2 linked regions of the Homo sapiens genome follow. The protein of the gene in region 1 purifies or fractionates together with the protein of each later gene. This does not show direct contact. Each region holds a gene or a part of one and is shown on either strand. Other genes may lie near its edges.

The links. Proteins that work in one complex are often made in the same cells at the same time.
Region 2: the proteins of CYTH3 (region 1) and HHIPL1 purify together in Homo sapiens (co-immunoprecipitation; one large-scale study listed by IntAct). This does not show direct contact.

What each region holds. Positions count from the first base shown.
Region 1 is NC_000007.14:6,163,729-6,168,565, forward strand, and holds part of CYTH3 (cytohesin-3), read right to left. Parts: intron 2,083-4,837; coding exon 2,006-2,082; intron 1,889-2,005; coding exon 1,817-1,888; intron 1,700-1,816; coding exon 1,545-1,699; intron 1,289-1,544; coding exon 1,216-1,288; 3' UTR 1-1,215. UniProt on the Homo sapiens protein: Promotes guanine-nucleotide exchange on ARF1 and ARF6. Promotes the activation of ARF factors through replacement of GDP with GTP. Plays a role in the epithelial polarization.
Region 2 is NC_000014.9:99,658,255-99,663,091, reverse strand, and holds part of HHIPL1 (HHIP-like protein 1 isoform a precursor), read right to left. Parts: intron 3,665-4,837; coding exon 3,336-3,664; intron 2,813-3,335; coding exon 2,686-2,812; intron 217-2,685; coding exon 71-216; intron 1-70.

The sequences.
Region 1 (4,837 bases):
GTAGGGAGGGCACCTCTCTCAGGACACGGCGCACTACATGGGGTGAGACTGTTTTTAGTTAATTCTGTGTCTATTCATTAAGAAATCTGGTCAAATTAGAAAGTCTGTAAAATAAGCGTTCATTTTGCCACAGGTTTTAAATAGCGATGAATATGGTCAAAAGCCGGTCTAACCTGCTGACCTGTATGAAACGCTGCCATGTGTGTGCATCTAAACAAAACATCAGCAGTTTCACGTGGCTCAGCGTATGGACCATCTGTGTCCAGGGAAAAGGCTGTTTCCTAGGAGTTAGCAGTTACAGCCTAAACACCCCCAAACCATTAACTGTTATAATTTTAATGATTTGCTTAAAGTATTTGTGGGGCCAAAAAGCCTGGTTGAAGGGAGGCCTCATGGGAGTCACCCTGGAGCCCCCAAGTGCCATGGCCGTCCCTCCCCCAGCCCGTCCCGAGCCCACCTGCTGCCCCCCGGGGCTTGTCTGACAGCCTGACAGGGCAGGGCTGCACGCTGCCCCCGTGCCGGTGCCCCCAGCCCTCCCCTTGGGTGCTGTGTAGATGGATATTTTTTCAGTGCACAGTATATACTTGTGTCCAGGAGTTAACTTTATAGCTGCCATTCTAAAAATACTACTGTTAGAAAGTATCTTTTGTTATAATTTCAGAATATAAAAAGGCATATAAAAGCTATAATCCTATATATCTGAGAAAAATTCTGAATAAAAAACTGGTAGCTTTTCCTTTCCTGTTTTGCTATAAAACAGTGGCTTTCTAGAACGGTTAATACTGCCCCGAGTGAATGCGTTTGGCATGGTACGAATGAGGCTCCCGTCTGTGGAATCCGTCCCGTGTCTGCTGTGGAGACAGCGGAAGCTGCTGTCCTGGCTTCTCCCCCTAGGGGCGCCGGGATGGTCGCAGGAAGGAAATGCTTCTGGACATGCGCAGCCGACCATGACCCCAGCCACGGCAGGAGGCCTCGAGGATCAGTCTGGGCCACGGTACGCTCTGGAGCAGCAGCTTGCACTGCAGGGCGACCACCTCCCAGGACCCCAGCCACGGCACGAGGCCTTGGGGATACCACCTGGGCCACGGTATGCTCTGGAGCAGCAGCTTGCACCGCAGGGCGACTGCCTCCCTGCCACGCCTTCCGCGGAGGGGCCGCCCGCGGTGTCTTTCTGCTGGGGTTGGGTCTTTTACCTGGGTCTTTTAGCCAGGAAAGCTATTTTTTATTGGCAATCCTTCGTTTCCTCGTTGCCAACATGTCATAGAAGGGATCTCTGCTGATACTGGCTCTGGTGAAAAAAGGAAAACACACAGGTTAGGTCGTGGGTGACACACAGACCTCCCCTTTCCCACCAGCCCCAGAGGCCCCTCAGACAGGACCGCAGGCTCAGATCTGAACGTCGGCTTTGGCAGCCCGGCCCTCTGGGGTTTCTGGAGACAGAAGGTCCACTCTTGCACACGGAAGCATCCATGTTCCAGACCATCCCCCGCCCTCCAACCGGCACGAGAAGACGGGCCTGGCCCCGCCCCCGAGGCCCCACTCACTTGATGGATTTCATCCACTCCTCCTTCTCCTCCGGGCTCGGGGCTGAGATCCGGTACACCACATGGTTCCCCTCTACCACGCGGCCGTCGGCCTCAGTCTTACAGGCCTTGATGACCTGCCCTTTGTGGCTGGGATTGTAGAGCTCAAAACAGTTCTGGTGGAGAAAGAGAGAGGGGAGGCGGTCAGGGGGGCTTGGGGCAGGTTCCCTGCAGGCAGTGAGGATGGCTCCCAGGTGGCTGGCAGGAGAGAAGGTTCAGGAGGAAGAGCTTACGGGTTTCCGGGGGTCCTCCACCTCCCTGATGCTGAGGTTTTCCAACGGGATGATTCCCCTGGGCTCCTTATCCTACAAGAGGAAAGTACACGGCGGGGCTCACTGTGGGTCACCAGCCTGAGGGTCCCTCGGCCCCAGGGCAGCTCCGGGACTGCTGGGAGGCGGCAAGGAGGCCTGGCCCTTACTTACTGTTGTGTATTCAAAGTAATAGAGGCAGTTATCGGTCAGGATGAACCACCGGCGCTTCCAGGTCTTCACACGCCCTCCTAGAAGCAGAAGGGCCCCGTGAGTCTGCGCTCCGTGCACAGGGAGCCCGCGGGTCCAAGAGGGGGCCCTGGACCTGCACAGACCACTGCGTTTTCAGAAAGGCCACCAGGCGCCAGGCTTGGGTTCAGGTGTCCTTCAGCGTTCCCACCGCAGGGCCCCACATGCACCCACCCCGCCCACACCGGCGCCCCCTCCACGGCACTGATGGGCCCCTTGATGACACAACCGCGCTACAATTCGCTTCCTGGGAGAGTTAGTGGGATGGATGGCGTCATTTTCCCACATGAGATGGCAGTGTGATGAAGTCAGGACTGCGCGCCTGGCTCTGTCCAGGACCTGACCCCACCATGTCAGGTGGTTATCGCATTACAGAGGCCCTTGGGCAGCCCTGGGATCCATCAAAATCAGTCACCCCTGGGCCCAAGGAATCGTGAGACTGAATTAATTTTGTAACAAGATCTGGAGCACACGTGCACACGCACGTACCCCCATCTGTACCTGCCCTCCTCTCCCTAAGGGAAGGAAATCTCTGATCCTTAAACACTGAGCAGAGACAAACTGACTTCAGCTGCTATAGCCTTGCCGGTGTTTGTTTTTTAAATAATTCAAAGAAATACACGCTGGTGACAATGAACTCAAGTGCTCCCTGGGGTACTAGGCCCTCTCTGCCCCATGCCTCTCCAGCGCTGCGGAGCTCACCCGGCTTTCTCTGTGACAGGCCGGCAGGGGAGTAGCCCTCCCTCCCTAAGTGGGGGCCAGCACGGGCGCTGAGGCCTGGAGGCAAGACTGTGTGCGAAGGGCTCTGTGGATGGATCACCAGGACACAGGGGGCTTTCCCTGTTGGGGCCTGGTTTGCAGAGACCCTGGGTGAGGAGGAACCAGCTGCAGGTGGGAGGAAGCCTGGCTCAGCGGAACTGGAGGCCGGAAGCGGGTCTCTGCAGTCCCTCTGGGACCCTCTGGCCCCTGCCTCACTCAGTGCTGCCGTCCTCCTTTGATGCCTAAGGCAGCCTGCAATGCGGTTGCCACCGCCAGCCTGGAACAGGAGCCCAGCCTCCAGCTGTTCCTCCTCTCCCCACAGGCCCCAGTCTCATCAGTGTCCCACCAGCCTACCTGTTAAAGGGTCTGTCTAGACCCTGGTCTGGGCAAATCTGCCCCCAAGCTCTCTGCTGCATCTCCCCAGCCCTCAGACCCTGCCCCCAACATCTCTCCTGAGCCCTGGCGGGGCTTCCACTCCCCGAACCCCTGCAAGCTGCTCCGTCACTGGAACCCTCTGCCCCAACTGTGGCACCGCCTCACTGGTCCCCTTTAAGACCCAGCCAGGCCCACAGCAAGGCCCAAAGTCCTTGTTGCCCTCGTGTCCCTGTCTCACCGCGGGCTCCATGCTCTCTGCAAGCCCTTGGCCTTCACCTTCCCCACCTCCACTGCAGCACACCAGGGAGGCCCAAGTCCACAGGGGAGGGCAGGAGACCCTGGGGGCAACCTGCCTTGTCCCACAGTCCTCCAGTGAGCAGTGAGAGGTGTTCTATGTCCCCGAGACCCTAGGGACAGGAGGACAGTGCTGATTCCTTCCAGGCACTTGCTCCAGCTTGAACTGCTGTGGCAGAATCAGCTGACAGCAACTCCACTACCCTGACATCCGTCACTGTCACGGTCGCCTCTGCTTCCCTCCAGAGACTCCAGAGCAGGCCCCGCTCCAGCTGCACTGGTGCCAGCTGCCATCCCCCAAACAGCGGCCAAAGGCATCTTTTCAAAAACGTGGCAATCATGCCCCTCCGGCTTGAAGCCCCCCAAAGGGTCCCACTGCACTCAGCTTTAAACCCAACTCCTTGGGCGGCAGCAGGGGCTGCCCTTCCTGGCTCCCCAGCTGTGGCCTTTCTCCCTGCCCTGTTATCTGAGTCTCCAGTTCTTGGGGAGCTCATCCAGGAGCCCCCAGGTTGTGTGTTTCTGTCCAGCGCCTGCTCTCTTCCTCCACGCTCCCAGCATGGTGGACAGCAAAGGACCTGTATGTTCCACTAGCCCACACACCTGGCCCCGCCTGGGAGGGGTCTGCCAGGTGGCCTCTCAGCTCCACCTTGGGTCCCCCGCTCACACCTCCCATGCAGAGCCCCATCCCTGTCCAGTCCTCAGGGCCAGGGGGTCGTTGCAGACCAGGACTGCAGGCCCAGGGAAGGGGTGATAAGCTTGGTCTCAGAGCCGAGCAGGCTCTGCTCACACTTGTTTCTGGCCACACCACACAGCATTCTCGCCTGCAGACAAGAGCCTGGCTTCTGGAACCTGCAGATGGGAGCCACTTTCTCTCTGTAAGTTTCTGTCTTCATTGCCGTTAGCAGGCAGGCGCGTACGTGCACACACAGGTCCACATGCACACACTTTCTGTATGGCAGCTCGGATTGGGCCACCTCCTAGGATTTTTTTTTTTTTTTTTTTTCTGGTGATTGATTCAAGACTCGAAGTCTTAAGTTACCAACAATCGTAAGCCACGCCTGTGTACACAGCAGGGCTCCTACGCTCTGGCAAAGCATCCAGGCCTTTTTAAGACCACCTGTTCTAAAAGCAAATCTACAATAAGAATGCAACCAAGCCAGGCCGCACTCCCCGCTGAGCACACGCCTGGAAGCACGTTCTAGATCCTGCACCCATCTCGTCTGCCTCCAGCCAGGGCCCTGGCTCGCCAGCCTTTGGTCTCGAACTTTGTTTCTGAGAACACAGCAGACATACAGGGTGCTGGGAGAGGACAAGGAAGCCAGCCCCTAG
Region 2 (4,837 bases), on another chromosome or scaffold:
AAGGACCACAGGGTGGAGGACCAGTCCCAGGCACGAGCAACCAGCAAGGAGAGGTCTCAGGAGTGCTCACCGGCCTCGTCCTCCCCGAAGGAGATGATGTACGGGTAGTAGTTGTTGATGAGGCCTGGGAACTCACAGGTCTGGCCGTGGCCCATGCAGATCTCACTGTACTGCCACTGGCCTGTCCCTGGGTTCTCTTGGAGGGACATCAGACGCCTGCAAAGGAAGATGAGCTGTGAGGCCATGCCTGGCATGGCACCCAGGGGAACCTACCCACCAATCCATCCATCCATCCATCCATCCATGTATCCATTCCTCCCTCCCTTCTTCCCTCCATCCTTCCACCATCCATCTACATATCCACTCACCCACTGATCCATGCAAGGACCATACACAATTCGCAGAGCCCGATGCAGAATGAGCATGCAGGGTCACTTGTCCAAAACATATTAAGAATTCAAGATGGTGACCACAGAGCATGAGATCAAGGGTGAACCTTTCTGGGTACCGGGCCCTCTGTGACTGCACATGTGGTATGTCCATGAAGCTGTCACTGTGTGCAATCTTCACCCAGCACCTACCAGACACCCACAGGAACGAACAAGACCGGCTTGGTTACTGCCCGCTGAATGCAATCCAGCCCACTGGATCCTACAGAGGGCACAGCGCTTTCAAGAGCTCACTGGTTTCAGAACCTGCCAAGCACTGGAGCTCCAACATCTTTGGAATATGCTAACCTTGCTCCTTACTCCCATCGCTGCTTGTCAATCACCTATTAATACTTCCAGGCCCTGCTTAGAGATGTCCCCTCCTCTGTGAAGCCCTCCCTGAAGGCCCCCATGCTGGGCTCCCCGACACTGTGCACAGGCTCTCTGGGGTTGCAGTGCAGTGGACTGAATGGGTCTGTCTCCCTGGCTCGGGTACGAGGGGTCCTATTCATCTCTGTCATCCTGGTTCTTGCCTGACCCAGCAGAGCGGCTGGGAAAATACTGGCAAAATTAGTTGAATTTCTGTGGTCAGGAGACTTGGGCTCTCCTGGGAAGGACAGAAGGGAGAAAGGAGAATCAGGGGTAAAAACAGAGGCTTCATCTGTACCCATTTTCCAGATGGGAAAGCTGGGTCCCCGGGGAAGGGGCGGATCTGGGAGAGGAATCCAACTTCCAGGGGCCCAGGTCAGGTATCTCTCTCAGCTCCAGGCTGCAGGCTGGACACAAAATCAGAATTCTCCCACTAGCTTCAGGCATCTTCATGTCTTTATTCCCTCTCCTTAGGAACCCTATTCGGCTGCTGCCAGAGGAGGTTGCATGGAAATAAGTAAGAAACACCAGGCTGGGCACCGTACCTTCAGCCTGTAATCCCAGCACTTTGGGAGGCCAAAGCAGGAGGATTGCTTGAGTCCAGTTCAAGATTAGCTTGGGCAATGGAGCAAAACCCCATCTCTACAAAAAATGCAAAAATTAGCCAAGCGTGGTGGCACATGCCTATAATCTCAACTATTCAGGAGGCTGAGGTGGGAGGATTGCTTGAGCCTGGGAGGTGGAGGCTGCAGTGAGCTGAGACTGTGCCACTGCATTCCAGCCTGGGTGACAAAATGAGACCCTGTCTCAAAAAAAAAAAATCACCATATATTAAGCATGTACTCCTTCCTTCCTTCCTTCCTTCCTTCCTTCTTTTCTCTCTCTCTCTCTTTCTTTCTCTCTCTTTCTTTCTTTCCACACTAGATTCTAAGTGATATTTATGTATTAACTGATTCAGTCCTTAAAACCACCCTAGGGGCAAGTACTATGATCATCTCCATTTTGCAGATGAGGTAGCTGAAGATAAGGAAAGGTGAAGTAACTGGCTCAAGGTCACCTGGCCAGTAACTGAGCCAGAGTTCAGACCAAGCCGTCTCAGCCTGCCCTTGGGCCTCTTTAGTCCTCAGCTTTCTCCTCTGTAAATGGGACAAGGTGGTCACGAGGCTCCATAAGCACCCTTGGGGACAGAGCCTGACTCGAAGGAGGGTTGTGATGTAGGTTTCCCTCCCCCATCAAACCTATTTGGGATGTGATTCATCCTCCTCCCACAGCAGGGTCTCAGTGGGTGGTACTGCTGCCCTAGAGCACGGGGGCAGGGCAGCAAGGCTCCAAGGCCACAAGAGCCCCACCTCCTCCTCTCCCCATTAGGAGGCCCATGGGCAGCCACTGTTCTCTCGGGTCTTAGTTTCTCAACCTTTGCAAGCTCCCTGCAGTCCTGGCTGGGGTGGGGTGGGGCAGGGCTCCAGGCCCCCATCAGCTGTTGCAGTGACAAGCTGTGGCTTCCCCAGGAGCAGGGTGGCCCTGAGTGTCCAGGAAATTGTTCATATTCTGCCCTCCTGCCCATCAGAACTGCTGTCAGGCCCAGAGCCCATGGTTCTCAGGAGGGAGAGGAAGACCACGGGACCCGCACTTAAGCAAGCCTCCAGTCTTTAATGCCATGAGTTGTGTGTCTATCATAGAGGTACTGAGGCCTGCAGCAAAGGCTCACCATACATCTCAGGAGAAAAGCGGGTGGATGCGGGTGTCCGGCCCACACCTAGGGGCCCCTGTCAGAGCAGCGAGGCACATGTGCAGGAACGGGCGCACACATACACTCCCCTTTACCAAGGAGCCAGTCCCAAGGAGCCAGTGGCAGCAGCCAGGGGCGCGAGGGCACTAGGTCACTTACCCGCTCATGAAATCCCCAAAAATGTAGAGGCCGTTCAGGTTGGGGTACTCGCAGCCCCGGTACACGTAGCCCCCTGTGACCGACTTGCCAACCGTGTGCGGGTAGGCGAAAATCGGCAGCAAGTCATCTGCGGGGTGGGAGGGAGAGAAGCTTCGGTGAGCCAGCGGCGGGAAGGTTCATCAGCCAGGAGAATTCCGGAGGGATTCCGCGGGGGTGGGGCGGCCACGGAGGGAGGGGCGTGCCCACAGCAGGGCTGGCGTGCCCACAGCAGGGCTGGCGTGGTGGAAAGCGTGTCTGCAGGGGTGCCAGGTGGGGATGGAGCGAGGAAGAACTCAAGAGCGCTGCTGGGAGGCCTCCAAGGCGCAGGGAGGCTCCGGGTGGAGGCGGGGGCAGTCACCGAAGGAGGCTTTGGCTCACAGCCCGTGGAGTTGGGGTGGGGGCAGATCCAGGGTCAGGGGGTGCCTGGGGTGCGGGTGGTCCCCGAGTGAGGCCCTGCCGCACAGCCCATAGAGTGGGGCCGAGGACAGACTCAGGGTCAGGGATCTCCGGGGGGGGGGGGGTGCGGTCTCCGAGGGAGGCCCTGCGGCACAGCAGGTGGGGTGGGGTGGGGGCGGATTCGGGGCCGGGGTCCCCGGGGCGCGGGCACTCACTGAGAGAGGTGTTGGCGCACAGGCTGCGGTCGTAGCACTCGAACCCTTCGCGCGCGCGCCAGCCATAGTTGCCGCCGCGCTCCACCACGTCCACCTCCTCGAACTTGTTCTGGCCCACGTCGCCGCAGAAGAGGCGCCCGCGGCCAGTGCCCGAGGAGGGGTCGCCACGGTCGAAGGAGCAGCGCCACATGTTGCGCACGCCCAGGGCGTAGACCTCGGGCTGCGCCGCGGGGTCGCCCACGAACGGGTTGTCGGGCGGGATGCCGTAGGGCAGGCCGCGCTCCTTACGGTCCACGTCGATGCGCAGCACCTTGCCCAGCAGCGCCGACCTGCGGGCGGGGTGGGAGAGGGCGCGGCTCGGGGTCGCCCTGAGCCAGGGCTCACGGGCTCCGCGGGGCAGGTGCTGGGGCGCCGGCTGACCGCTGAGCCAGGTGCAGGGTGAGCCTAGGCTGTGGGGCCAGAGACCCTGGGATGCTGTCCGCCTTAACTACTTACAGCCGGGTAACCATTCATTCACTCAACATGCATCCCCCACCTTCCTGTGCGCCAGGCCTGTCCCATGCGTTGGACACAACACATCATCTATTTCGTCTTGTCCTCACAACAGTCGTTTAGGTAGGTGTGTCCTAGTATGATCCCCACTTTACAGATGTGGCAGCGGAGCTCAGAAAGCTCAAATAACATCGCCCAGTTGCCGCACCGCTGGGATCCAGCCCAGACAGCCTGGGCCCAGAAACTCAAGCTCTTTACCACACACTCTGTGGAATCTTGGTGTCCTCAACTGTAATAGTAGAGTGGTCCCGCTCAGACCATTCAGTCCTCCCGGACTGTGGTATAGGGTGAAAATTCCACTAGAAAAAATGACTTGTATTTACAGTTTTCTTCCAGTACTCGGCACTGTGACCAGCACATAGTAGGTGACCATTAAGTGCAGAGTCAGTGAATGAAGGATTGCAATCAAAGCCAAATGCACCAGCGTGCGGGTTGGTGGGGAGAGGGGGAGAGAGCAGAGGGGTGCAGCCCTAAGCTCCAAGCAGCTAAGGAGGATAGCTCATGACAAAAGTGACGCGTGATGGGAAAAATCTGTAATGTGCTTAAAGACAGTGCGGAGAACATGCCCTTCTCAGCGGTGATTTCTGATGCACCGACTGAATGCATCAGTTTCCCTTGCTGTTAGCATTTTGGTGTCCTCCCTCTGGGTTGCTTTTCAAGGCAGGGTTTGTGAAGCTGTATTCCATCATCCTCACATAGCGTTAGCACCCACACCTTTCCCTTATCAGTAGGGACAGCAAACAAGTATCCTCTTTCACGGTGATGAAACGCTCCCACCCGATATATGCCTTGTGATCAAGCCCCTGTTGCTGGCCTTCTACTTTCCCCCGTAAATTCCTCTCATACACTCCAGCCTGCTGAACACCATCCAGATCACACCCCTGAACCCACGCGTCACATGCCAGGATTCGATATCTAAGTGGGCACAACTTGTAGCAGCAAAATAATGT